7 linked regions of the Homo sapiens genome follow. The protein of the gene in region 5 interacts with the protein of the main gene of each other region in a biochemical or structural test. Each region holds a gene or a part of one and is shown on either strand. Other genes may lie near its edges. The genes, in order: PIDD1, LTF, NPM1, PRKCZ, NCL, ERG and GZF1.

Region 1 (3,548 bases), on a different chromosome or scaffold from region 5:
TTGGGGCTGGGCGCAGTGGCTCACACCTGCAATCCCAGCACTTTTGGAGGCCGAGGCAGGCGGATCACTTAAGGTCAGGAGTTCGAGACCAGCCTGGCCAACATGGTGAAACCCCGTCTACTAAAAATACAAAAATTAGCCAGCGTGGTGGCAAGTGCCCTAGTCCCAGCTACTTGAGAGGGTGACGCAGAATCGCTTGAACCTGGGAGGCAGAGGTTGCAGTGAGCTGAGATCATGCCACTGCACTCCAGCCTGGGTGACAGAAACTCCATTTAAAAAAAAAAAAAAAGTAGCCCATGTGGGTTACTTTGTAGCACAGCTCCTCCCTCCCAGGAAGATGAGGACCCACAGGAGGCCCCAGGCACAGTGGGAGAGGACAGGACCAGGATGTGGGGCACCTGTGCACACAGGCCTCCCTCCCCGCAGGGGCCAGGCCTCTACCCCACCACCCTCCGCCCTCCAACGGCTTCTCCATCCAACAAATAAATCAAGCTCTGAGGTGAAAGAAACAGTGCAGTTTTGTTGCTCACAGGGACCCGTCCCCACACACTGGAGAGACTTGAAGGTGGGGGCTCTGCCCATCCACTGGGGAATATCTGGGCCAGCCTAAAAGTCTGTGGGGCCTAGGCCTGGGCAGGCTCTGGGGGCTGTGGAGCCGAGGAGCCAGGCAGAGCGGGGTCCTTGGGGGCCAAGCCCATGCGTCGGATGCTGTCCTGGTACTTGCGGCGGCCGAGCTCCAAGACTGCGCGCACCTCTTCAGCCACGTCCTGCCGGTCACTCTGCTCCAGGGCCTGCACCAGGAGCCCCACAGCCCCTGGCTGCCCAGCCTGGCGCTCAGCCCAGGAGAAGAGCATGTGACGGATCTGCTCATCCAGATCATCCCTGCAGGCAGAGGATGGGCGACAGAGGGGTCCTGTCCACCTGCCCAGGACCCCCCACCACACTCTGCCTCGGAGTGTGGGGGAGTTCCCGGCTCCTGGGGCCAGGTGCGGCCAGACCTTTCCTTTCCAGCCTGGTGTTTGCCCTTCCCCCACCTCCCCTGGAAGAAACTTCTGTCAGAATCAGGTGGGCCCTCCAGGCAGCCAGGGCTCAGCCCTGGGGCTGGCAGCCAGCGGGCAGTGGGAGCCTCACCGGAACTCGTGCCGGATGCGCTGCACCTCCCGGTAGGACACCCCCAGGTGCAGGGCCACGGCTGGCCAGTCCAGACCCAGACGCCCAGCCACACTCAGCAGGTTGCTCTGCGTCAGAAAGCCGGTCTCGGCATCTCCCAGATTCAAGGGTGCCAAGGAGAGGCCAGCCCCCCGCCGTGGCCCCTCGGACCCTCGAAGTCTCTGTTGGAAGGAAAAAGTGCATTAAGCCCTGGGCTCCACCCCCAACTCCACCATGTCACCCTGGTCACCCCTGGGCCTCGGTCCTGCCCCGCCCCTCTGCTGTCCCTCAGTCCCACCGGCAGCTTGATGGGCAGAGTGGCCATCCACAGGGCGTCTGCGCCCTTCCTCTGCCGGGCAGCCTCAGCCTCCTCGGGCACCCGCACAGGCACCGCGCCACGGTAGAAGGACACCTGAAGGGGCATCGAATGGGGTTCGGAGTTCGGTCCTCTGCCCAAGCGGCCTGGGGGGCCTCTCCCCTCACCCACTCCCCTCGCCCACCTGGCCCCGCACAGCCTGAGCCTCCCGGTCCAGAGTGGTGGTCACGTATACCTCCTTCACATTCTTCAGGTGCGAGTAGAAGACAAAGCAGATTCTGCCCTCCACACAGTCAGGGCGGTCTAGGGGACAGGGGTGGGCTGAGCAAGGAGGGCTCGGGGAGGACGGTAAGGCTCCCCCTCCAGGGCAGGGAGCATCCACCAGCATCCCTACCAGCATCCACGTCGATGCCGCGCTCGAAGGCCGCAAAGAACTCTTCGCCCTCGAACATCTCCACCGTGTCAGAGGGCTCGGGGCCCCGGTACCGCTCCAGCAGCCGCCGAAGGGTGGCGTCCACCTGCGGGGAAGCCCGTGCAGCTCAGGACCCAAAGCTCTGCACCCCACCCCAGCCCTCTGGTCACCACCCTGCTGCCCTCCGGCCCGTGCCCCCACCTTGTTTCGGGGCAGGCACTGCAGCAGGACCTGCTCAGGGTCCCGGCGCCGCTGCAGAGCGATGAGGTTCACACGGTGCAGCCGCAGCCGCTCCCAGGCCTTCCGAGCCAGGCCTCCCACACAGTTCTTGGTGGTGTACCAGAGCCAGTACCTGGGAGAGCTGGGGGTGAGGAGGGCTGTACAGACTGGGGGAGGGGGGCTGAGAAAGCTGGGGGGCACTGACCAGGAGAAGTGTGTGACCTGGAAGCGTGCGTACAGGTGGGTGAGCTCCAGGACCACCTGAGCTGTGATGTCATCCCAGGTGGCTGCAGGAGGGGCCCAGTACAACAGGTGCAGGCGGGAGCGGTCCAGACTGAGGCCTGGGGATGGGAGGGGCAGCGAGCTGAGGCCTCCTGGCCGGAGACCCCCTCCACCCTATGGCCACAGGTCCAGGTATGCCCCATGGCTGCCTCTCACCTGTGATGCCAGAGGGCAGAGGCAGCTGCACGGTGACCGGTTGGAGGAAGCTGGGGGGACCGCTCTGTGACAGGCACAGCAGGGGGCTCACTGCAGCCTCTGGTTCTCCCAGGAGGGCCTGCAGCTCTCGGCCAGCCATGCGCACCACCTGGGGCAGACAGGCCCCCTGAGCACCTGCCTGTGGGCTGAGGCGCGGCCTGCCACCCTCAGTGCTGTCCTGGCCATACCTGCATGGAGACTCGACGAGGCTCCTCAGTGGCCCCAGGGGGGAAGATGACTTTGACCCCAGGATGACCCGAGGAGCACAGCAGTGTCCCCTCCGGTGGCACCAGGCAGGCATTGGACACAGGGCGGGAAACCACAAGGAACCAGGAGAAGTGGGGCACCTGGCAGTGAGCCCAGAGCCGCTGGGATGGGGGAGAGAGGAGGTCACAGGAGCCTGGGTCAGGGCACAGCCAGTCAGGGACACAGGGAGCAGGATCCAGGAGAGACGGGGCGGGGTGGAAGGTGCCAGGGACACAGGGAGCAGGATCCAGGAGGGACGGGGTGGGGTGGAAGTTGCCAGGGACACAGGGAAGCAGGATCCAGGAGGGACGGGGTGGGGTGGAAGGTGCCAGGGACATAGGGAAGCAGGATCCAGGAGGGACGGGGCAGGGTGGAAGGTGCCAGGGTGAGGCTCTGGGCAGAGGTGCACGGCTCAGGGCAGCAGCTCTCCACTCGCCACCGGCAGGCCTGGGTGGCCCTCACCTGGGGTGCCTCTTCCTCCAGGTAGGTCTCCAGGTCACCCCAGCTGTTGTCATTCCGGGTCCTGACCACCACTTCACGGCAGCGCCGGGCCTGCGGTGGGGTGAAGAGCAGCCACAGCCCCACATCCTGCCAGACAAGGATGGTGTGAGCACTGGAGCCATGCCCGGGCCCGCACACTGCCCCTGCCATGCCCTGGCCCACACACTGCCCCCGCCACGCCCTGTCCATGCCTGCTGGAAGGCCACCCCATGGGGCTGCAGCTCCAGC
Region 2 (3,500 bases), on a different chromosome or scaffold from region 5:
GAACATTCTACCCCATAGCACATCCAAAGGGCAGAGGGCTTTTACAACTGTGTGTTTATTTTGTTTTTTTGTTTGTTTGTTTTTTGTTTTAGTTTTTGGTAACAGCTTTACTGAGGTACATTTTCCATATCATAAAAAATCACCTATTTGCGTACAATTCAATGAGTTTCAGTAACCTTACCGAGTGTGCAACTATCACCATAAATCTGTTTTAGAACACTTTTATCCCCCCCAGTAAAGGTCCCTCATGCCTGTTTATAGTTAATCCTCATTTCTACCCCAGCATCAGACAACCACTAATCTATTTTCTTGTCTCCATAAATTTGCCTTTTCTGGACATTTCATTCAAATGGAATCATACAGCATGTGGTCTCTTGTGTCTGGCTTCCTTCACTGAGCATAACTGAGGCTCGTTCATGTTGTGGGGCATGCCAGTAGTTCTTTTCACTGCTGAGTAATATTCCATTGAATGGATGTACATTCACCAGTTATTGGACATTTAGGTTGTTTCCAGTTTTCTACTATTCTAAATAACACTGCTATGAATATTCATGCACAAGCATTTATGTATGATAGGTTCTTATAATATTTCTTCTGGCTATATGCCTAGAAGTGCAATTGTTGGGTCCTATTGGAACTCTGTGCTTCACATTTTGAGAAGCTGCCAACCTGTTTTACAAAGTGGCTGGTCATTTTACATTCTCAGCAATGTATGAGGGTTTCCACTTCTCCACATCCTCATCGATATGTGTCATTGTCTGTTTTAGCTATTATAACCTGTTCAGTGGCTGTGAAATGATATTTCGTTGCATTTTCAATTTGCATTTTTGACTAATGATATTGAGCACTTTTCATGTGCTTATTGTCCATTCATATATCTTCTTTGGTAAAATGTCTGTTCTTATCATTTACCCGTCATGTACTAAATCCTTTTTGATGTTATACTATCTAGCATTATGTTCTTAATTTCATTTTTAGATTGTTCTGTGCTGTATGCAAAAATATGATCAATTTTTGTATATTGATCTTGTATCCTGTGGCCTGGCTGTACTTGTTTATTAATTCTAATAGTACTTTGTAGATTCTTCAGTATTTTCTACATAGAAGATCATGTTATCTGAAAGTAAAGTCAGTTTTACTTCTTTCTTTCCAATATGGGTGTCTCATTTCTTTTCTTGCCTTATTGCTGTGACTAGAATCTCTAGTACTGTTGAATAGAAGAGTTGAGTGTGGACACTCTCTCATCATTCCTGATCTTAGGTGGAAAGCAGTCAGTCTTTCACCATTTTAGTATGATGTTCATTGCAGGTTTTTTGTGGATGCCTTTTATCAGGCAACCAGGTGAGTAAATTCAATGCATCTTCCTCCCTAATTACATGGATTTGAGCAACAAAAGCAGGCTCAAAAGAAGAACCAGTATTTGAGCAAAAAAAGCAGGCTCAACAGGAGCACCAGTCTTTCTGTGCAGAGTGAATGGTGGTAGCTCAGGCACACCAACCAACTGATTTGTCCCCATTGACACTGACTTACCATTTACCTCAGCTACCAACCGACTCAGGTATATTTTCCCCTGTTCTCTTGGCATTCCCTGGGAAGAGATTTATGCACAAAACAATCTAGAGAGACGTGGATTCTCAGCTGGGCTCTGCACTGCTGAGTGGCGAGTCACTCAGCCTCCTTAGGAGCCAATTTCCACATCAGTAAAACAGGAGCAATGACTCCTTTCCTGCCTACCTTCCAGGTTCAAAGTGGGCAAAGCTGGTAGAAGAATTCCATAACTGATCTGGGGGATCACCATCATTTTTTAAGTGGTAGGAAACATGTCAAAGTCATAGGAATGAAAATAATCTAGAGGGACTTTCTCCTTTAATTTATTGAGAACCACAGACCTCTAGCCAATGCAGAGATCCTATTAGTCCAGCAAGATGCCTCCACTTGTGGAGAATGGCTGGACATAGCCATGAAATGGAGAGGGAAGGAGGGCAGCCGAGAGAGAGGGAGGAGTCTGGAAAACTCCATCAGAGGGTGCGGTGGTCACGCCCTCAGTCAGTGGTTGAATCCTTACTCCTTGGCCCCTCTCTCCCAGGACTGTGTCTGGCTGGCCGTAGGAGGAGTGTTCAGTGGTGCGCCGTATCCCAACCCGAGGCCACAAAATGCTTCCAATGGCAAAGGAATATGAGAAAAGTGCGTGGCCCTCCTGTCAGCTGCATAAAGAGAGACTCCCCCATCCAGTGTATCCAGGCCATTGCGGTGAGTCAATGCCGGGTGTTGGTTGGGACCAAGCTGAATGGAAGGGAGAGAGAAATGGAAAAAGATAGAACACGAGCTCTCCTTACTTCCTCTGCTTCACCTGTTGGGCAACGAAGTGGGGAGCCGTCCTCTCTCACAGGGAACTGTGCTATTTTCAGAGCAGAAAGGAAGGAGCTTAAGTCAAGAGACCATGTGTGAGGAACCTGGAGCCTCCACATAAACTATAATAACAACTGTTATTCATTAATAACAACTGTTCCAAAATGAAATGTAATCAGTTGTATTTGATGAATACATAGGATCAGCAAAAAGCAAAGTTACTCAGAGAGGGAAATCCTCCAAAAGAGTCATGACCTCTAAACCCTGTGAGAAAGAAGCTTGTCCTGGTCACCGTTGCCACATCACATGGCTGGGGCAGGGCCTGCCAGGGTGCTGGGTGTTAGAAAGACTTTTGTCCAAGACACTTTCAGAGAGAGAGAAAAGGGTATCATGACTTGTATATGATTTCTGATTCCTTTTATTTTTTGAGATGTAAGATCTACTGAAATGATTTTTACTCATTCATTCAACAAATATATTCTGTGTACCTGCCATGTGCCATAATCATGTGTACTCAACTCCAGCAGAGTGAATAATTTGCATAAAAGTTCCCGAGGCAACTTCATAGGATTATCTTATAAATACAATGGAGTTATTAGAATAGCACTTAGGGAAAAATCTAGTTTAATCAATGTTTTAGGCTATTATTTTACAACTATTACCTGCATACAAACAGTACCAGTGGCTGGGCGCGGTGGCTCACGCCCGTAATTTCAGCACTTTGGAGGCCGAGGTGGGAGGATCACCTGAGGTCAGTAGTTCAAAACCAGGATGGCCAACATGGTGAAACCCTGCCTCTACTAAAAATACAAAAATTAGCTGGGTGTGGTGGCACATGCCTGTATTCCCAGCTACTTACAAGGCTGAGGCAGGAGAATCACTTGAACCCGGGAGGGGGAGGTTGCAGTGAGCCAAGATCATGCTATTGCACTCCAGCCTGGGCGACAAGAGCGAGACTCCATCTCAAAAAACAAAAAACAAAAACAAAAAACCAGCACCAGCATCTCTTGCTTGTTTAAAATGCAGATTCCTAGGCTCTATTCTAACCTACTCAATCTGAATATATGTGAAAGAAGCCACAAAATCTGCCTTTTAAAATAAGATCCTGTCCAAGGCCATACCACGCTGAACGCGTCTGATCTCGTCTGATC
Region 3 (3,500 bases), on a different chromosome or scaffold from region 5:
AGTGATGTGATCTTGGCTCACTGCAACCTCCTCCTCCCTTGTTCAAGCAATTCTTCTGCCTCTCCCAAGTAGTTGGGATTACAGGCACCCCCCCCACCACGCCCGGCTAATTTTCTGTATTTTAAATAGAGACCGGGTTTCGCCATGTTGGCCAGGCTGGTCTTGAACTCCTGAGGTCAGGCCCGCCTCGGCCTCCCACAAGTGCTGGGATTACAGGCGTGAGCCACTGCACTGGGCCCAAGAATTCTTTATGTATTCTGCAAACAAGTCCCTTATCAGACACAAGATTTACAGATTATCTTCCACCATTCCGTGAATTGTTACTTAACTTTCATGATGGTGGCCTTTGAACAAGTTTTTAATTTTTATGACGTCCGATTTCTTTTGTTGCTTGTGCCTTTGGTGTCAATCCTAAGAAATCATTGCTAAATTCAAAGTTGTGAAAATTTGCCCCCTTAATTCTGAGTTTTGTCCTTTATATTTAGGGCTTTGTTCCATTTTGAGTAAACTTATGTGTATGGTGTGAATGGAGGGGTCTAAATATAGACTTTGGATGTAGATTAGCAGTTGCCCCAACATGATTTGTTCAAAAACTATTTTTTCCCCATTGAATGATCTTGGCAACCTTTAAAAGAGTCACTTATGGCTGGGTGTGGTGGCTCACACCTGTAATCCCGGCACTTTGAGAGGCTGAGGCAGGCGGATCATGACCAGGAGATTGAGACTATCCTGGCCAATTTGGTGAAACCCTGTCTCTACTAAAAATACAAATTTTAGCTGGGCATGGTAGCGTGTGCCTGTAGTCCCAGCTACTCAGGAGGCTGAGGCTGGAGAATTCGCTTGAACCTGGGAGGCAGAGGTTGCAGTGATCTGAGATTGCACCACTGCACTCCAGCCTGGCGACAGAGCGAGACTCCGCCTCAAAAAACAAAAAAATCACTGTTTCTGGACTGTTCTGTTGATGTGTCTATCCTTAACATGTAAGAACAGTACAACACTGTTCCTCTGTGGTTTTTATTTATTTATTTTTTTGAAATGAGTCTCACTGTCACCCAGGCTGTAGCACAGTGGCGTGATCTTGGCTCACTGCAACCTCCGCCTCCTGGTTCCTCCTGCTTCAGCTTCCTGAGTAGCTGGGATTACAGGCGCCCGCCACCATGCCCGGCTAATTTTTGTATTTTTAGTAGAGACTGGGTTTCCCCATTAGCCAGGCTGGTCTCAAACTCCTGACCTCAGGTGATCTGGCCGTCTCGGCCTCCTAAAAAGTGCCGGGATTACAAGCGTGAGCCACGGTGCCTTGGCCCCTTTGTAGGTCTTATAGCTGATTTTTTGAAATCAAGTGTGAGTTTTCTAGCTTTCTTCCTTTCCAGATTGCATTTGGCCTCTTTGGGTCCCTTAAGTGTCTTTTTTGTTTTTGTTTTTTGAGATAGGGTCTTGCTCTGTCACCCAGGCTGGAGTGCAGTGGCAGAATTACACAGTTACAGTTCACTGTCTCAAGCAGATCCTCCTGCCTTAGCTTTTCAAATAGCTAGGACTACAGGCGCACACCACCACGCCTGCTAATTAAAAATTTTTTTTGTAGAGAGGGTTCTCATTATGTTGCCTAGGCTGGTCTTGAACTAAAACGATCCTCCCACCTCAGCCTCCCAAAGTGTTAGGATTATAGGTGTGAGACACTGTGCCAGTTCTTGGGTTTGTTTATAAATTTTAGGATCTGTTTCTACAGAGAAACCAGCTTGGGGAGTCTTCTAACGATTGTATTTAACCTGTATATTCGGGGAGTGTTTCCATCTTGGCAATATCTGAACATGGAATGTTTCTATTTAGGTCTTTAATTTTTTTTTTTAACACAAATTCACTCTGAGTGTACAGTTTAATAGAACTATACATTACTTAAATATACATACATTATACAGTGGTATAGTGTGTATTTATGCAAAACTACTCATTGAGCAACTTCATTTCCCAGCCCCTAGCGATCACAATTATACCTTCTATTTCTTTGAGTTTGACTACTTTTAGATACTTAATGAATAGAATCATACAGTGTTTGTTCTTTTGTGGCTGGCTTATTTCACTTTGTTCAAGGTTCAGTCATGTAGCATGCAAGAGGATTTTCATTGTGTGTACATATACATTTTCATTTAGTCATTTAACACTTGGGTTGCTTTCACCTCTTGGCTGTTGTGAACAATGCTTCGATAAACATGGGTGCACAAATAATCACTTCAAGGTCCTGCTTTCAATTCTTGTGTCTACTCCCAAATTTTGAAAGTGCTTAATGTCTTGACATTTCATTTGTAGTGATGATGATGATGATTTTGATGATGAGGAAGCTGAAGAAAAAGCGCCAGTGAAGAAAGTGAGTAGATACAATGCTACAAGGTTGTTAAACTAACAATAGAAATGGTGATTTTTTAGTGCTATTTGCTTGTTTTGTAGTTAAGGGAAGCTGGTGTGGGAGATCATCTCATACTGAAAATTAGTCCTGAGGAGGATTACAGAAAACTTAAGAGTGGGGAATGGTCTGTTTTCTTTATCCATGTGGCCCTCCACCCAGTTTGTTAGTCTTGTGTAACCTTTTGTCCAAGTGGTTGCTGCTTTTTCCTTCCTTTTTTTTTTTTTTTTGAGACGGAGTCTCAATGTCACCCGGGCTGGAGTACAGTGGCGCGATCTCAGCTCACTGCAACTTCTGCCTCCCGGGTTGAAGCGATTCTCCTGCCTCAGCCTCCTGAGTAGCTGGAATTACAGACTCATGCCACCACACCCAGCTAATTTTTGCATTTTTAGTAGACCACCATGTCGGCCAGGCTGGTCTCGAACTCCTGACCTCGTGATCCACCTGCCTCGGCCTCCCAAAGTCCTGGGATTACAGGCATGAGCCACCACGCCAAGCCTGTGGTTGCTGCTTGTCTTACATGGCTTGGACAGCTTTGTTTGCACTGTTGTTGGGGTCAGGGACAGTGATTAAGATAAATTTCTAATTGCAGTCTATACGAGATACTCCAGCCAAAAATGCACAAAAGTCAAATCAGAATGGAAAAGACTCAAAACCATCATCAACACCAAGATCAAAAGTAAGTGGCTACATTTACACGTGGGTCTCATTGATCTAGTTGGGGAAAAAGATTCTACTGTGGAAGAATCTAGTGTGTCTGAAATTTGATAGGCCTTTATAGAACCCCTGTAATTGCTGTTTAAAAGTTAAAATCAGCTTGCTGCAGCCAGGCTCAGTGGCTCACTCCTGTAATCCCAGCACTTTGGGAGGGAGGCCAAGGTGGGTGGGATCACCTGAGGTCAGGAGTTTGAGACTAGCCCGGCCAACATCGTGAAACCCTGTCTTTACTAAAAACACAAAAATTAGCCAGGCATGGTGGTATGTGCCTGTAATTCCACCTACTCAGGAGGTGGAGACAGGAGAATTGCTTGAACCTGGGAGGTGGAGTGCAGTGAGATTGCACCACTGCACTCCAGCTTGGGCAAAAGAGCGAGACTCCGCC
Region 4 (3,500 bases), on a different chromosome or scaffold from region 5:
CTGTTGTCCACTGACCTCTCCGTCTATCCATCTATCTATTGTCCACTGACCTCTCCATCTATCCATCTATTGTCCACTGACCTCTCCATCTATCCATCCATCTATTGTCCACTGACCTCTCCATCTATCCATCCACTGTCCACTGACCTCTCCATCTATCCATCCATCTATTGTCTACTGACCTCTCCATCTATCCATCCATCTATTGTCCACTGACGTCTCCATCTATCCATCTGTCTGTTGTCCACTGACCTGTCCACCCATCTGTCTGTTGTCCACTGACCTCTCCATCTTTCCGTCTGTTGTCCACTGACCTCTCCGTCTATCCATCTATCTGTTGTCCACTGACCTCTCCATCTATCCATCTATTGTCCACTGACCTCTCCATCTATCCATCCATCTATTGTCCACTGACCTCTCCATCTGTCCATCCACTGTCCACTGACCTCTCCATCTATCCACCTATTGTCCACTGACCTCTCCGTCTATCCATCCATCTATTGTCCACTAACCTCTCCATCTATCCATCCATCTATTGTCCACTGACCTCTCCATCTATCCATCCATTGTGCACTGACCTCTCCATCTATCCGTCTTCTATCCAGGCCTCCATTCATCCCCCATCTAGTCATCCTCCATCCATCCACCAGACATCCACTCCTGCCCCTACCCACCCATTCACTAGACACCAAAATCCGGTGACGAATTATTTGCAGATGGACCCCTGGGGACGTATGTCACGAATGTACATCCCCAGGTCCCATGGTCAGAGTCGGCAGGTGTGAGTGGGGCCCAGGAAACTGCATTTTCAGAAGACTCTAAATTAGAATCAGACATGGCTGCTGTGTGGATTCACCCTTCACCGTCACCCTGCAGAGGAGCAAGGTCCACAGGGTCGCTGTGTTCCCAGTGCGTTCCTGACCACACCGTAACGCCCCTTCCTTCCTCCCTCTCTCACCAGTTGCTTACATTTCCTCATCCCGGAAGCATGACAGCATTAAAGACGACTCGGAGGTGAGTGTGTGGAGCAGCTCGCTGCCATTTCCGACGTCCTCTGGAAAGTCTGTGAGCCTGTCTCTGGGGTAGTCACGGAAATCTAGATGTGAAATAGACATGGTCCGGGGTGTTGCTAACTAATCTTCACGGGTGTGGATGTCTAGAAGGAAGTCCTTATTCTTGGGTCTTACTTCAGGCATGTCCTTGATGAATACCTGCAGGCAGCTGTCCCCGCAGGTGGTCTGGGGACCACACCCTGCGGGGGAAGCCGTGCCCCACATCCTCTCCATTCAGGTGGTACAGTGGCCCAGGGGCTGGCTTTTGAGCTGCAATTTTTATCAAGTTGTGTCTGCACCATGCCTTCCGAATTGTGTTGCCTCATTTGGCCATCCTGGCAAACCCTCTGAAGCCCTTTCATGTCCTTCCCCAACTTGAGCCAAGAGGCTCAACTGAGCCTCACGTCTGTGGCCAGCTCTGCACCATAAACCCTGAGAAGGGAACAGAAGAGCTTGCTGCGTTCTCAGCCTCTGCTCGTAAAACCCAGGGAAGGACTGCACTAGCGAAGCCCACTCCTTTCCAGAGCACCAACAAGTGTCACCCTCACAACTCGTGCTCCTTCCTGGCCATCCTGTGTCTGGAGGGAGGCCGGGGCACTTAGAAAGCAGAATCTGAGGCTGAGCACGGCGACTCACACCTCCAATCCCAGCATTTTGGGAGGCTGCGCACATCGCTTGAGTCCAGGAGCTCGAGAACAGCCTGGGCAGCATAGCGAGACCCTGTTCCTACAAAAATAAATACAAAATAATTAGCTGGGCATGGTGGCACGGGCCTGTGGTCCTAGCTGCTTGGGAGGCTGAGGTGGGAGGATCGCCTGAGCCTGGGAGGTGGAGGCTGCAGTGAGCTGAGATCGCACCACTGCACTCCAGCCTGGGCGACAGAGGAAGAGTCTGTCTCAAAAAAAGCAGAATCCGGCTGGGCGCGGTGGCTCACGCCTGTAATCCCAGCACTTTGGGAAGCTGAGGCGGGCAGATCACGAGGTCAGGAGATGGAGACCATCCTGGCTAACACGGTGAAACCCCGTCTCTACTAAAAATACAAAAAAAAAAAAAGCTGGGCGTGGTGGCGGGCGCCTGTAGTCCCAGCTACTGGGGAGGCTGAGGCAGGAGAATGGCGTGAACCCGGGAGGTGGAGCTTGTAGTGAGTCGAGATCGTGCCACTGCACTCCAGCCTGGGCGACAGAGCCAGACTCCGTCTCAAAAAAAAAAAAAAAAAAAAAGCAGAATCCATTTTGCCGCACAGAACAGCACCTCCCAAGGAACCGCCTCCTCCACCCCGACCTCCTTGCCAGGTGTAGCTTGCGGGAGGCAGAGGCTTCTGTTCTTCCTCGGAGCGCCTTTCTCCTGGGTATTTCTAATAATTATTTCTAATAATGTGTGCCTGCCGGTTTGGGAGCTCTTGGCAGGCATTAGCTGCATTCGCTTTACCTTCCTTCCCCTGAGGGAGGGCACTGATCAGGAAGGATGGGCCCAGGCCCTGGGCCACATGTCCCTGTGGCCACCTCTTCAGCCCCACTGATAGGGCTGAGGGCCTGGGGGTCCCTCCCACCTGCAGCTGTGACCAGAGCCATGGTCTGTGGAACGAACAGCTTCTAGCTTTCTAGCACCTTCCTCAGAAGCACACAGCCTTAAATTCTTACCTTTCATGCCCCAGTTTAGATGGGAGTTTGGGGGTGGGATATGTGGGACGCAGAACTGAGACTCGAATCATGAGGCCCTGGGCTCTGAGGAGCAGGTCTCTGTTGGGACCGCATGAGTGATGCGTGGTCCTCTGAGTCTCCCGGGAACCCCCCTCTCACTTTCTGGGGTCTTGTTCTCCCTCCCTAGGACCTTAAGCCAGTTATCGATGGGATGGATGGAATCAAAATCTCTCAGGGGCTTGGGCTGCAGGACTTTGACCTAATCAGAGTCATCGGGCGCGGGAGCTACGCCAAGGTTCTCCTGGTGCGGTTGAAGAAGAATGACCAAATTTACGCCATGAAAGTGGTGAAGAAAGAGCTGGTGCATGATGACGAGGTAGGTGCCGCTTCTCATGGGGCCCGGGGGCCCGGGAACGCGCTGCCCTGGGGCCTCCTCCGGGCTTTAGCGGAATTAATCCATGCACGAGAGACCTAGCCTCACGTTGACGGAGTTTGTGCAAAATCAATAGTCATGCATCGTGTAATGACCAGGATGTGTTCTGGAAAGTGCCTGGTTAGGTAATGGCACTGTTGTGTGAACATCACAGTGTGCACTCCACAAACCCAAACAGCACAGCCAACTCCACAGCCAAGATGCACAGTGCAGCTCCTGCTCCCAGGCTGCAAGCCCGTACGGCTGTTAGTGCACTGCACACTGCAGGCAGTGAGGGGACCACCACGAGAGCACTCACGTGTCTAAGCTTAGAAAAGGTGAAGATGGGTATCGTGGTCTCTGCAACCTTCTCATGTATGGCCAACCACTGATACG
Region 5 (3,500 bases):
CTGGGATCAACATATTCCTTCCACGACAACCTGGAGATGAGATTAGAATCCTTGTGGGAATTCTCTGGGTTGTTGTGGTGTGCTAGACTTAATTACCCATGAATGATTTTTGTGCCTCTTGAGAAAATTTCAATAGCACATTCTATTAGTGTTTTTTATAATGTAGGATTTTGTTTCTAAGTGATTTTTTTTTTTTTTAAATTTTTTTGAGATGGAGCTTTTGCTGTTTCCCAGGCTGGAGTGCAATGGCGCGCTATCTCGGCTCACTGCAGCCTCCATCTCCTGGGTTCAAGCAGTTCTGCCTCAGCCTCCCGAGTAGCTGGGATTACAGGTGCCCACCACCACACCCTACTAATTTTTGTATTTTTAGTAGAGACGACATTTCACCATGTTGGCCAGGCTGGTCTCGAACTTTTGACCTCAGGTGATCCACCCACCTTGGTCTCCCAAAGTGCTAGGATTACAGGCGTGAGCCACTGCGCCCGGCCCCAAGTGATCTATTCTTGCCATGACTGTTAACTAAACATGGTGACAGGATTGCATTTTCTTTACATTAGATTTGAAAACCGATGTTGGTTTTGGGAGATTGCTGCAATTTTTAGGTGACTTCTCTTTCAGACTCTGAAGAAGAAGCTATGGAGACTACACCAGCCAAAGGAAAGAAAGCTGCAAAAGTTGTTCCTGTGAAAGCCAAGAACGTGGCTGAGGATGAAGATGAAGAAGAGGATGATGAGGACGAGGATGACGACGACGACGAAGATGATGAAGATGATGATGATGAAGATGATGAGGAGGAGGAAGAAGAGGAGGAGGAAGGTACTTAAATTAGATTCTGACATACGACATGAGTTATGTTTAAAGGAGGCACTTAAGTGTTTGTGGCTACTGATGTGTGATACATTGTTTGACATCTTGTCCAGAGCCTGTCAAAGAAGCACCTGGAAAACGAAAGAAGGAAATGGCCAAACAGAAAGCAGCTCCTGAAGCCAAGAAACAGAAAGTGGAAGGTAACTTGCAGAATTAGGGGATATGGGGGAGATAAACAGCACAAATGATGAATAACAAAGGGACTTAATACTGAAACCTGATGTTACATTGTAGTGTGCTGATGTGCTGTGTATAGAAATTTTGCTTTGGAAACTAACTTTTTACCACACTACAAGTAGACTGAGTTGAGCTTTTTTTGTGCAGGCACAGAACCGACTACGGCTTTCAATCTCTTTGTTGGAAACCTAAACTTTAACAAATCTGCTCCTGAATTAAAAACTGGTATCAGCGATGTTTTTGCTAAAAATGATCTTGCTGTTGTGGATGTCAGAATTGGTATGACTAGGTAAGTGCTTCACTGCACGTTACATACACGTGGGTCTGTTAATGCTTTTCCTTCCCCTGTTAGCACAGTTACTTTAGCCTGCTACTGTTAAACATGAATACTGTAAACATCTTCAAGGATTAGCATTAGTGAACTAAGTTAGAATTAAACTGTAGATCCCCTAAGTTGCAATTTCCATAATCAGTCGTAACTTGGTATAGCACAGAATAATTTTTAGTAAGTTTTTTTGTTGTTTTTGTTATGTATTGAGACGGACGCTGGCTTTTGCTCAGGCTGGAGTACAGTGGCGCAATCTTGGCTCACTGCAACCTCTGCCTCCCGGGTTCAAGCGATTCTCCTGCCTAAGCCTCCCAAGTAGCTGGGATTACGGGTGCACTTCACCATGCCTGGCTAATTTTTGTATTTTTAGTTGAGATGGCATTTCACCATGTTGGTCAGGCTGGTTTTGAACTCCTGACCTCAAGTGATCCACCCACCTCGGCCTCTCGAAGTGCTGGGATTACAGGCGTGAGCCACCCTGCCAGTAAGTTTTAATAATTTGGTGTTAGGTGGGAGAATCGCTTGAACCTGGGAGGCAGAGGTTGCAGTGAGCCAAGTTCGCGCCACTGTACTCCAGCCTGGGCAACAGATTGAGACACCGTCTCAATTTAAAATAATGTTTATTTTCTTGGAAGTACCTGAAACTATTAGACCTGTCTAGTCATCATAGTGAATACTTTTATCCAGACAGGATTCTCCTGTATTAGTGCTTATAGGTGTTCTTTTGTCAGCTGCTACTGTGAATTCTTATAAGCAATTTAGCTCCATGATGAAGACCTCAAACGTGAATGTGCATGTCATATCTTCATGCTGAGACCTTGTTCTGTAGCTGCAGTTTGCAGAGCCTTGACTTTGTTTTGCTAATACTAGGGGTGCTTTTTAAAATGTGATCTTTGTTTGCACCATCACATTTGTCTAGAATACATATTGTGGATTTTGATTTGTGTTTTCACCTGTTGTAATTTTGCCCTCCTCTCCACCTTGAAGGAAATTTGGTTATGTGGATTTTGAATCTGCTGAAGACCTGGAGAAAGCGTTGGAACTCACTGGTTTGAAAGTCTTTGGCAATGAAATTAAACTAGAGAAACCAAAAGGAAAAGACAGTAAGAAAGGTATGTAAGGCTTTATGAGATTATGCAATGAACTCAGGAGCTAGACTGCTAGGGAAAATGCTTTGTAACCCATTTCCCTTGGTTTCCTCTTATTTTTTTAAATCATTTTTTTCCTTTGGTTTCCTCTTAATGTGGGAATTAAATGAGCTACAGTGTTTACAAGAGTACTTGGCACTGCTTGTCAGTGTTATAGTGTAAATTCCTGAGTTAGGCAAGCAAGAGCACTTTTATACAGAACAAGAATTATTAGATGCACCTAAATTAACGTAAAGGGATCTTTCTTCACTGAAACTAGATTAGGTCCCTAATTACTCCCTATATACAGTTGTAATGTTTTGAATTGGTACATTCACTTTTTTTGTTATGCGCGTCTACTCTAGGTTGAACTCCAGTGTACCTAACAGAGAGTTTGACATCAGCTGTGACAACATGGAGGGACCACTTGTGTGTTGACACTGCTATATCTCCATATTTAGCACCGAGCCTTGTACATTATAGGATCTCAAATTATTTGTTGAATAGAGCTATGTGTGTTTTTCCCCTCTTTTTGTTGTTGCCCCCCACCTTTGGTTTTTCAGGCCACAGAGCTCATTTTTGTTTTTTTAATCTAGAGCGAGATGCGAGAACACTTTTGGCTAAAAATCTCCCTTACAAAGTCACTCAGGATGAATTGAAAGAAGTGTTTGAAGATGCTGCGGAGATCAGATTAGTCAGCAAGGATGGGAAAAGTAAAGGGTATGTTCTGTCTATTGAAATGTAAGGGTTTTATTAACATTAATGCACTTTCCTGCTTTATAAAAGAAATATTGGTTTGATTTCCTTAGGCGTGTAATCTTGGACAGTTTAACCTGTAAGTTTGTGCCTCAGTAACCCATCTGTACCATGGGGATAATGTACTCATAGGGTGATTTTAAAAGACAAGCTAATACTTACAAAGAAGCAAGAAATGTGCCTATCTTACAATAAATACTTTGTAAGTAGTAGCAGTTCTTTCAGTGAGGTGAGGTTACTATGAA
Region 6 (3,500 bases), on a different chromosome or scaffold from region 5:
TATAACTTGATTACCTCATTTAGGATCTTATCTCCAAAAAAGGTCACATTCTTAGATACTGCGGGTTAAGATTTCAACATAGGGAATTGAGGGAACACAATTCAACCCATTATACAAGCAGATAAAATAACTAGTATTTTTTAAAAGAGAGCCTTGATACAACCACAAGACTTCAAATTCAGGCTCATCTTCGATGGTCTGTTTCTGAACTTCGATGCTAGAAGAAAGTGCAGATTCTTAATTAGCCCATTTGTAACCAGTGCATTGCCAAGGTTTGTCACCTGTCCTAGTGTTTCAGTGCCAACCACATAGTTTTATTTGTTTGTATTCAGATCAGAACCAGCTGTGCTGGCACCAGCTTCAGAAATTCATAGCCTATGCTGCATATTCCCAACTGCAAATTCAAATGCCAAGATGTTACAGGCATATTGCAAGCACAAGATGGAATGTGTATTTCCTAAACGTTGAGGCCAAAATAAGGTTCGAAATGGAATAATTAAGATTTAATCAGTGTACATCCCTGCAAGAGAATCTACACATTGAAAACACGAAATGTTATCATTATTGAACATCTGTATTTTTGAAGTTAAATTTTGGTTAATGTTAATGAATTCAATGAATTTTTTTTACACAGCTGAAAATCTAAAGAAAACTAGTTAGCCTGGGGCCTAGACTAGGTGCTCAATAATTATTTGTTGCATACATGAATGCCAAGGATAATGAGATATAGTCCTTTAGCTCAGGGTGCTTTTGGTCCGTGGAGAGATGGACACAGGTAGTTACAACATTGTCCCAAACACAGAGCCACAGGCCCTTTTTGCTCATGCTGGCTTTCATCTAGTAGCCCAGGCTCCTGAGGCTGTGGTCTCTTCTCAGCCTTCTGCTCAGCTTTTCATTTGCAACTCTGCCATATAACCATTCAAATAAAAATAATGACTATGTTTTGAGATGATTATTATCAGTCATGCTTCAGGAAGACTGATCTGGCAGCAATGTTCAGGATAGATTAGAAAAAAGAAAATGACGGAAGCTGAAACACTCTGGGAATGTTAATACAATCATGTGAAATAACAATCAAACAGCTCCCATCCCGCAGAATGCCCCCCATAGAATGTCTGTGGTCCCTTCTGTGTCTCATAACAGCCCTGGGAGGTTACTATCTCCATCCTACAGAAAAGGAATTAGAAGTCCAGAGAAGTTAAGTAACTTTTCCTGTGTCACACAGCCAATGATAAGGGAGGTCAGGTTAGAAACCTGACTCTGTCTGCAAAGTCTACTTTTGTTTTCTTGCCCTACTCTGCCACTGACTAAGTATGAAGGGAAGAGGAGGTCTTACAAAATGCGGACTGTGAGAATAGAAAGCAAGGATTTCCTTTCAGGGTCATAACTGCTTAGGTGCAGGCGATGAATCTGAGGTCAGGAAGGAAGAGGAGGAAAGAGTCAAGCTGCACCAAAGAAGACCAAACTGGCCTTTGCACTCACACATTGGCCAAATGAAACATATATGTCCATGACCACGTTGTCACAGCCCAAAGGTACTGCTTGGCTTGTTTGTAGAATAGGGCCTGAGTCACTTGCTCCTAAGCAAAGTGCCAGCTTTCACAAGGGAACACTGCATATGCCCTGGGCCCAGCAGCCCGGGGATGCCCTTTGTAGATAGAGGGACCTGAGCTCAGAGCAAGGAGACCGGAAACTCATCACAGGCCTGGGGAAGGAGGACTGTGCTTCATACCATTAAGACTGTTCTTAATGGGCCTGGAGAAAATGGCAACATCCCATCTTTGATTTGCAGGCAAGTGACTTTAAGATAAAGATTTATTTCATTTAGTTTCTGATGAATTTGACTTTCTCTCCATCTATCTTTAGGTTTGTGTCTGTTGTGCTCATGTGAACTTTTCCCCTGAAACCAGAATGTCTTTTATCTTTGTATTAATGACAATGCTTCTTCCTGTTTGATTCTATTTTTCTATTCTCTGATAAATAAATCTTTCATCACTTAAAAATTGCTGTCTTTGCTCTTCATACAATACAAATTCCTTTTCATCATTTTAAGTGGAAAGATTGCATCATATAGTATGAATGCACAGGATGATGTCAGCATCCCAACATCTCTATCCCAAATATTCACTTGATGTGTACTTTGGACATCACTTTTCCTGCTGAGAACAGTGTGTCCCTGCATTCTGATATCATGGATCGGTTATAAGCAACACAGCTCCTTTACATCCCATCAGAGCAGCTGAGAATCTATCTAACATGGTTCCTCTAATGAAAGAGCTTTGGTGGGTTATGTTCAGAGGCTTCCTTGATGCTAACTGGATACTCTTCAATGGTGCACATGAAAATACATCCTGCCTCTTGCAGAACGACAGACCAGGCTAGGGATGTTTTCCCATTTGTTAGGAGGTGGCAGTGTGCAGTCTTCCAGTGGGAGTCCCCCAGGGAGGGGACAACATGGAAAGGACCTGAGGAGGCTACAGAGGTGTGCATAAACCAGGCCTGAAAGCAAGTTTGCGCAGTGATTAAGCATGGCAGCCTAGAGTCTGGATTTCAACCCTTGCCAACGCTAAGCAAAATAAGTCAGTCTACCTCTCTAAGCTCCAATTTCGTCACTTCTCCAATGGACTAATCACATGATTCCTGTGGGGATTAAATAAACCAATACATGTAAAGCGTTTAGAATGGTGCATGGCACACAGTAAGCTTTCAGAGGATATCAGTCAGCCCAAGAATAGCACCGTTTCAAGCTTCTTCATGGTTCAATAGGCCAATTGAACAGTATTTCTCTTTCTTTAGGCATTTCCTGGCTATAGGAGAGGAGTGTTATCTTTCCTTAAACTCTGATTTTCAGCCCAAAGAAATTCTGACAAGACCATTCAAGTACTGAGTTCATCCTTACCATGATCTTGCAAGATAGTACTATTACCATCACCCCCACTTTACAGATGACGATACTGAGGCAGAGAGAGCTGCGAGAGTTGCCAAACGTCCCACAAAGGGCAGAGGCAGGATTCAGCTGAAGCAGTGGCAACTCCAAAGTTGGTGCTCCCTACCACCATGCTTTCCTGCCCCTCCAGTAAGTGGTGCCTGAGCCTCACTGAGCCTCGGGGCAGAGACTTCCATTCAGGACACACCTGCTGGACACACCTGCTGCCTTGCAGAGGGTCCAGGCCATGCACACGGGATCTTCTGCACCACCCCTGGCTTCTAGAGAAAGTGGCCCCAAACCACTGCCACATGGTACTGGTGGGGCCCCTCACGGCTGTATTTACTGCCCTTGTTCATCAGCTGACGGCTGCAGGGCTTTGCACCAGGATGCTGTTTCCACCAGACACAGCTGCTGACTCACTCTGCAGCTCTCTGCTTTGCTCTGTGGTTTGTAAACCGTTTAGTTTTTTTTTCCCCCTTTTTTGCTCAGTCTGTACCCCTTTGCTACCCTGTTTCTCTCCCTTTCTTTTAACAATATTAGGAGATTACTTTCCTCTGTAAAATTAAAGGAG
Region 7 (3,500 bases), on a different chromosome or scaffold from region 5:
GACAGGGTGGGCACGGAGATGGAGCAGGTTTCCAAAAATGAGGGTTGCCAGGCAGGTGCTGAGTTGGAGGAATTGTCAAAGAAAGCAGGGCCGGAGGAGGAAGAGGAGGAGGAGGAGGAGGACGAAGAAGGGGAGAAGAAGAAGAGCAACTTTAAGTGCAGCATTTGCGAGAAGGCGTTTCTGTATGAGAAGAGCTTCCTGAAGCACAGCAAGCACCGCCACGGCGTGGCCACCGAGGTGGTGTACCGCTGCGACACCTGCGGCCAGACCTTCGCCAACCGCTGCAACCTGAAGAGCCACCAGCGCCACGTGCACAGCAGCGAGCGCCATTTCCCATGCGAGCTGTGCGGGAAGAAGTTCAAGCGCAAGAAGGACGTGAAGCGGCACGTGCTGCAGGTGCATGAGGGCGGCGGCGAGCGGCACCGCTGCGGCCAGTGCGGCAAGGGCCTGAGTTCCAAGACAGCGCTGCGGCTGCACGAGCGCACACACACGGGAGACCGGCCCTACGGCTGCACCGAGTGCGGCGCCAGGTTCTCGCAGCCGTCCGCGCTCAAGACGCACATGAGGTACGCGGGGAGCCGTCCGGAGGGGTCCCTGCGCACTGGAAGGGTGTGTCAAGCACTGAGGTCGTCCTGGGATTTGATGTCTCACTGCTTAATTTCTCCGCTCCAAACCTGGGGGCTTATTTCGAGACAGCGTTTAGTTCTCTGTCAAGGTACAGGGGCTGCGAGTGATGGCTCTGCTCCCTTGTTCTGAGACCCCTGGGGCGCCCCTGCTGGCCGGGACGTCCCTCTGGTGGGACCGCGACAGCGGCCGCGGGCTCGCCCCACCGTGCTGGAGGAAGAGTTGGGCCTCGTTACCTTTATTTCTCCTTTCCTGACTCTTCGTTTAGATCTTGGGGTTCTGTGACCATCCGGGTCCCACAGTCTCAGTAGAGACCTCAGTGAGATGCCATTTCAGGCTTTAGGACTCGTCTCTGGTCTTTTGGTTCTCAGGCTTGGAAGGAGTGCCATCTAGGCAGTCTGCACTCCAGAATCAGGACAGACAGTGCTTTCTGTTTCTTAATATGTTTCTGAGCTGCAGGTGTGTGGTGATGTTTTTAAATAAGTTTTCTTATAGTTCTTAGTATATTTATTCTTGAAATCCCAACAAGCAGTTGTTTTCTCTTCTCTTCTAGATCTGCCCTCAAACCTAGGTCAGTCTTGGGTTAGCAGCATGGTGTTCATTTTTTACTCTATATAATAAGTTAAAAATACTTGGTTTAGGAAGTGCTCAGTAAATTATGTTTGATTGCTACTTCATACTAGTTGTGACATTAAAATGCTTATGCATTTTAAAAATGCCACCTTCGGCAATTTGAGAACAGTTCTCCTTTCTCTACTGGTGATGTCATATTAGGAAATGAGAGTAACATTTTTGATCATGTGACACTTAATCAGCAGTAGTTCCTAAGGTGTTTGTGGCTGATTATTCTGTATGAGACAGCTTTACAAATATCAGATTGTGGTCTTTAGTGTTTAAAAAAATCTGCAAAGGCCTGGTCTCTACCTGCACATGCCTTATAGCATCAGCAGTAGGGCTTGTGATCAGGTGTAGATGAACATTCCAGTCAGTGATTTATGGAAAATGTGTGGATCCATTGACCTTGTGCAGAAACTCAGTTTATTTTGGGATGGAGATTATGGGCTCTTGACCTGTCACTACAGTCATTCTCATTAGGTCTCTTGGAGTAAACGATTTTTGCAGGATAGAGTGGAAATTGTATTGCAAAGTGAGCTTTGAAATACATCCTAAGTTATCATCTGAATGTTGTACTTTCAGAATTCATACAGGGGAAAAACCTTTTGTCTGTGATGAATGTGGTGCAAGATTCACTCAGAACCACATGCTGATTTATCATAAAAGGTGTCACACAGGTAAATACTCATGCTGTTGTGATTGAATGTCTTTCCTAGATCTAGAAGGAAATGCAATTGATTAATTTTGAAGTTGGCATCTACCAAGGTGGTGCAGGTTAAAGCCATGATATAGCTTTTCCATCTAGTAAGTGAGCAAAATGAATAAACATACACCCATTGCCTTGTTGCTAGTGTGCACATGGCTGTGGCTTTTATACCACCAGGCCATAGGATCTGGCATGCAGGTCTTAGGTATCAAGAGATATAAAATAGTTCTTTTGTAACCGAAATTTTTTTTTCTAAGACTCTGTCCTAAAGAAATTGTCCAACATATGGGAAGAGCTGTATGCTATTATCCCCCTTCTTGCTATTTTTAACTAAGAATGGGAAACAGCCTGATTGTCCAACTACAAGGAAGTGCTCTAGTCAACTCTGGTAAATCTATACCCTGGCTTATGACCCGGCTATTCAGAGTAAGGGCTCTGAATGACATGAAAAAGTCTGTGCTTGGATGTTCAACTTTAAAATGCACAATTAAGCATACAGTTAACCTCAATTGTATTGAAAACCTGCACATAAAAGACCAGAAGAAAATAAGTTGTTATATGATACATTAAGGTAGTAGGATTATCTCATTTCTGTTTTCCAAAGTCTTTATGATTTATTAATTATGTGACAGATAAAACTTAAGTTGGCTTTATTCTGCTTCAGCACAGTAACCCTGAGGTTTAGAATCTTGTGGAAGATACAGAAGCATACAGCACTGAAGTGTTCCAATTCTTCTCAGTTTCTTCTTTGCTTGCATTTTTTATTCTTACCTGTAAACACTGGCTTACAAGCCTCAAGTTCAAATGCATGTGAGACAGAGATGACATGTCTCTGACTCATTAGACACCACATCTGTGTGATTAGACACCAGTTCTGCTCATTCTGAAGTCATAATTCATGTCATTGAATGAAAATCTCATTTAATGTCATGAAATTAGCATTTAATGACATGCATTATGACTACAGAATGAGTAGAATTGTTTAAAGAAAGCTTGGGATTGGGGACAAGGTCAGGTTATAATGAAGGATTAAGTTAGAATTGGTCCTTTGATAATATTAACATGGTAAGATTTTATTAAAGTCACTATTTTTATTTTGATGTCTGTGAAATCGGGCACAGCTAATAATTTGGTAAGTCTGATTTGTGGGATTAAACTACAAAAAGTGAGATATTTAAAACTCTTGTCCTACAATTCAATCAAGTTGATTGGAGTTGCTACTCTAGAATAGTGATATATATCCATTGTCAACTTCCCCTTTATTCTGATAAAGATCCATAGAAGTGTTCCTTTGAAAATAATCCAGCAGTTCCTCCAAACAGAAGTTGTGAAATTATTTTCTTGTTTGGAATGAGTAAATTTCTAAAATGTGAGCCAGCTGAACAAACAATACCTCTTTGATTCTAGTCAAATGGAATTTTTCTTGCAATTTCCAAGGATATTTTACACCAACTTTCAGTAAGTAGCAAGCATCTTACATGAATATATATTTTATGATAGTTTTTACTGGAAAATGTAACATGCTGCCTACCAAGGCACTTTTGAGTTCACGTGG

What was found.
Region 1: the proteins of NCL (region 5) and PIDD1 form a complex in vitro, tested with the Homo sapiens proteins (one study listed by BioGRID).
Region 2: the proteins of NCL (region 5) and LTF interact in a biophysical measurement, tested with the Homo sapiens proteins (one study listed by IntAct).
Region 3: the proteins of NCL (region 5) and NPM1 form a complex in vitro, tested with the Homo sapiens proteins (one study listed by BioGRID).
Region 4: of the proteins of NCL (region 5) and PRKCZ, one has a biochemical effect on the other in vitro, tested with the Homo sapiens proteins (one study listed by BioGRID).
Region 6: the proteins of NCL (region 5) and ERG form a complex in vitro, tested with the Homo sapiens proteins (one large-scale study listed by BioGRID).
Region 7: the proteins of NCL (region 5) and GZF1 form a complex in vitro, tested with the Homo sapiens proteins (one study listed by BioGRID).

What each region holds. Positions count from the first base shown.
Region 1 is NC_000011.10:798,684-802,231, forward strand, and holds the end of PIDD1 (p53-induced death domain-containing protein 1), read right to left. Parts: coding exon 3,512-3,548; intron 3,408-3,511; coding exon 3,282-3,407; intron 2,942-3,281; coding exon 2,762-2,941; intron 2,683-2,761; coding exon 2,535-2,682; intron 2,438-2,534; coding exon 2,302-2,437; coding exon of another isoform or gene 2,230-2,301; coding exon 2,079-2,229; intron 1,984-2,078; coding exon 1,860-1,983; intron 1,769-1,859; coding exon 1,650-1,768; intron 1,562-1,649; coding exon 1,448-1,561; intron 1,332-1,447; coding exon 1,132-1,331; intron 883-1,131; coding exon 624-882; 3' UTR 501-623; downstream 1-500. UniProt on the Homo sapiens protein: Component of the DNA damage/stress response pathway that functions downstream of p53/TP53 and can either promote cell survival or apoptosis.
Region 2 is NC_000003.12:46,458,406-46,461,905, reverse strand, and holds part of LTF (lactotransferrin isoform 1 preproprotein), read left to right. Parts: intron 1-2,086; coding exon 2,087-2,250; intron 2,251-3,500. UniProt on the Homo sapiens protein: Transferrins are iron binding transport proteins which can bind two Fe(3+) ions in association with the binding of an anion, usually bicarbonate. Lactoferricin binds to the bacterial surface and is crucial for the bactericidal functions.
Region 3 is NC_000005.10:171,397,849-171,401,348, forward strand, and holds part of NPM1 (nucleophosmin), read left to right. Parts: intron 1-2,304; coding exon 2,305-2,362; intron 2,363-2,990; coding exon 2,991-3,077; intron 3,078-3,500. UniProt on the Homo sapiens protein: Involved in diverse cellular processes such as ribosome biogenesis, centrosome duplication, protein chaperoning, histone assembly, cell proliferation, and regulation of tumor suppressors p53/TP53 and ARF.
Region 4 is NC_000001.11:2,147,911-2,151,410, forward strand, and holds part of PRKCZ (protein kinase C zeta type), read left to right. Parts: intron 1-961; coding exon 962-1,014; intron 1,015-2,879; coding exon 2,880-3,068; intron 3,069-3,500. UniProt on the Homo sapiens protein: Calcium- and diacylglycerol-independent serine/threonine-protein kinase that functions in phosphatidylinositol 3-kinase (PI3K) pathway and mitogen-activated protein (MAP) kinase cascade, and is involved in NF-kappa-B activation, mitogenic signaling, cell proliferation, cell polarity, inflammatory response and maintenance of long-term potentiation (LTP).
Region 5 is NC_000002.12:231,457,985-231,461,484, reverse strand, and holds part of NCL (nucleolin), read left to right. Parts: intron 1-618; coding exon 619-816; intron 817-920; coding exon 921-1,007; intron 1,008-1,042; exon of another isoform or gene 1,043-1,117; intron 1,118-1,191; coding exon 1,192-1,333; intron 1,334-2,359; coding exon 2,360-2,484; intron 2,485-3,095; coding exon 3,096-3,219; intron 3,220-3,500. UniProt on the Homo sapiens protein: Nucleolin is the major nucleolar protein of growing eukaryotic cells. It is found associated with intranucleolar chromatin and pre-ribosomal particles. It induces chromatin decondensation by binding to histone H1.
Region 6 is NC_000021.9:38,386,978-38,390,477, reverse strand, and holds part of ERG (transcriptional regulator ERG), read left to right. Parts: intron 1-3,500. UniProt on the Homo sapiens protein: Transcriptional regulator. May participate in transcriptional regulation through the recruitment of SETDB1 histone methyltransferase and subsequent modification of local chromatin structure.
Region 7 is NC_000020.11:23,365,182-23,368,681, forward strand, and holds part of GZF1 (GDNF-inducible zinc finger protein 1), read left to right. Parts: coding exon 1-566; intron 567-1,821; coding exon 1,822-1,916; intron 1,917-3,500. UniProt on the Homo sapiens protein: Transcriptional repressor that binds the GZF1 responsive element (GRE) (consensus: 5'-TGCGCN[TG][CA]TATA-3'). May be regulating VSX2/HOX10 expression.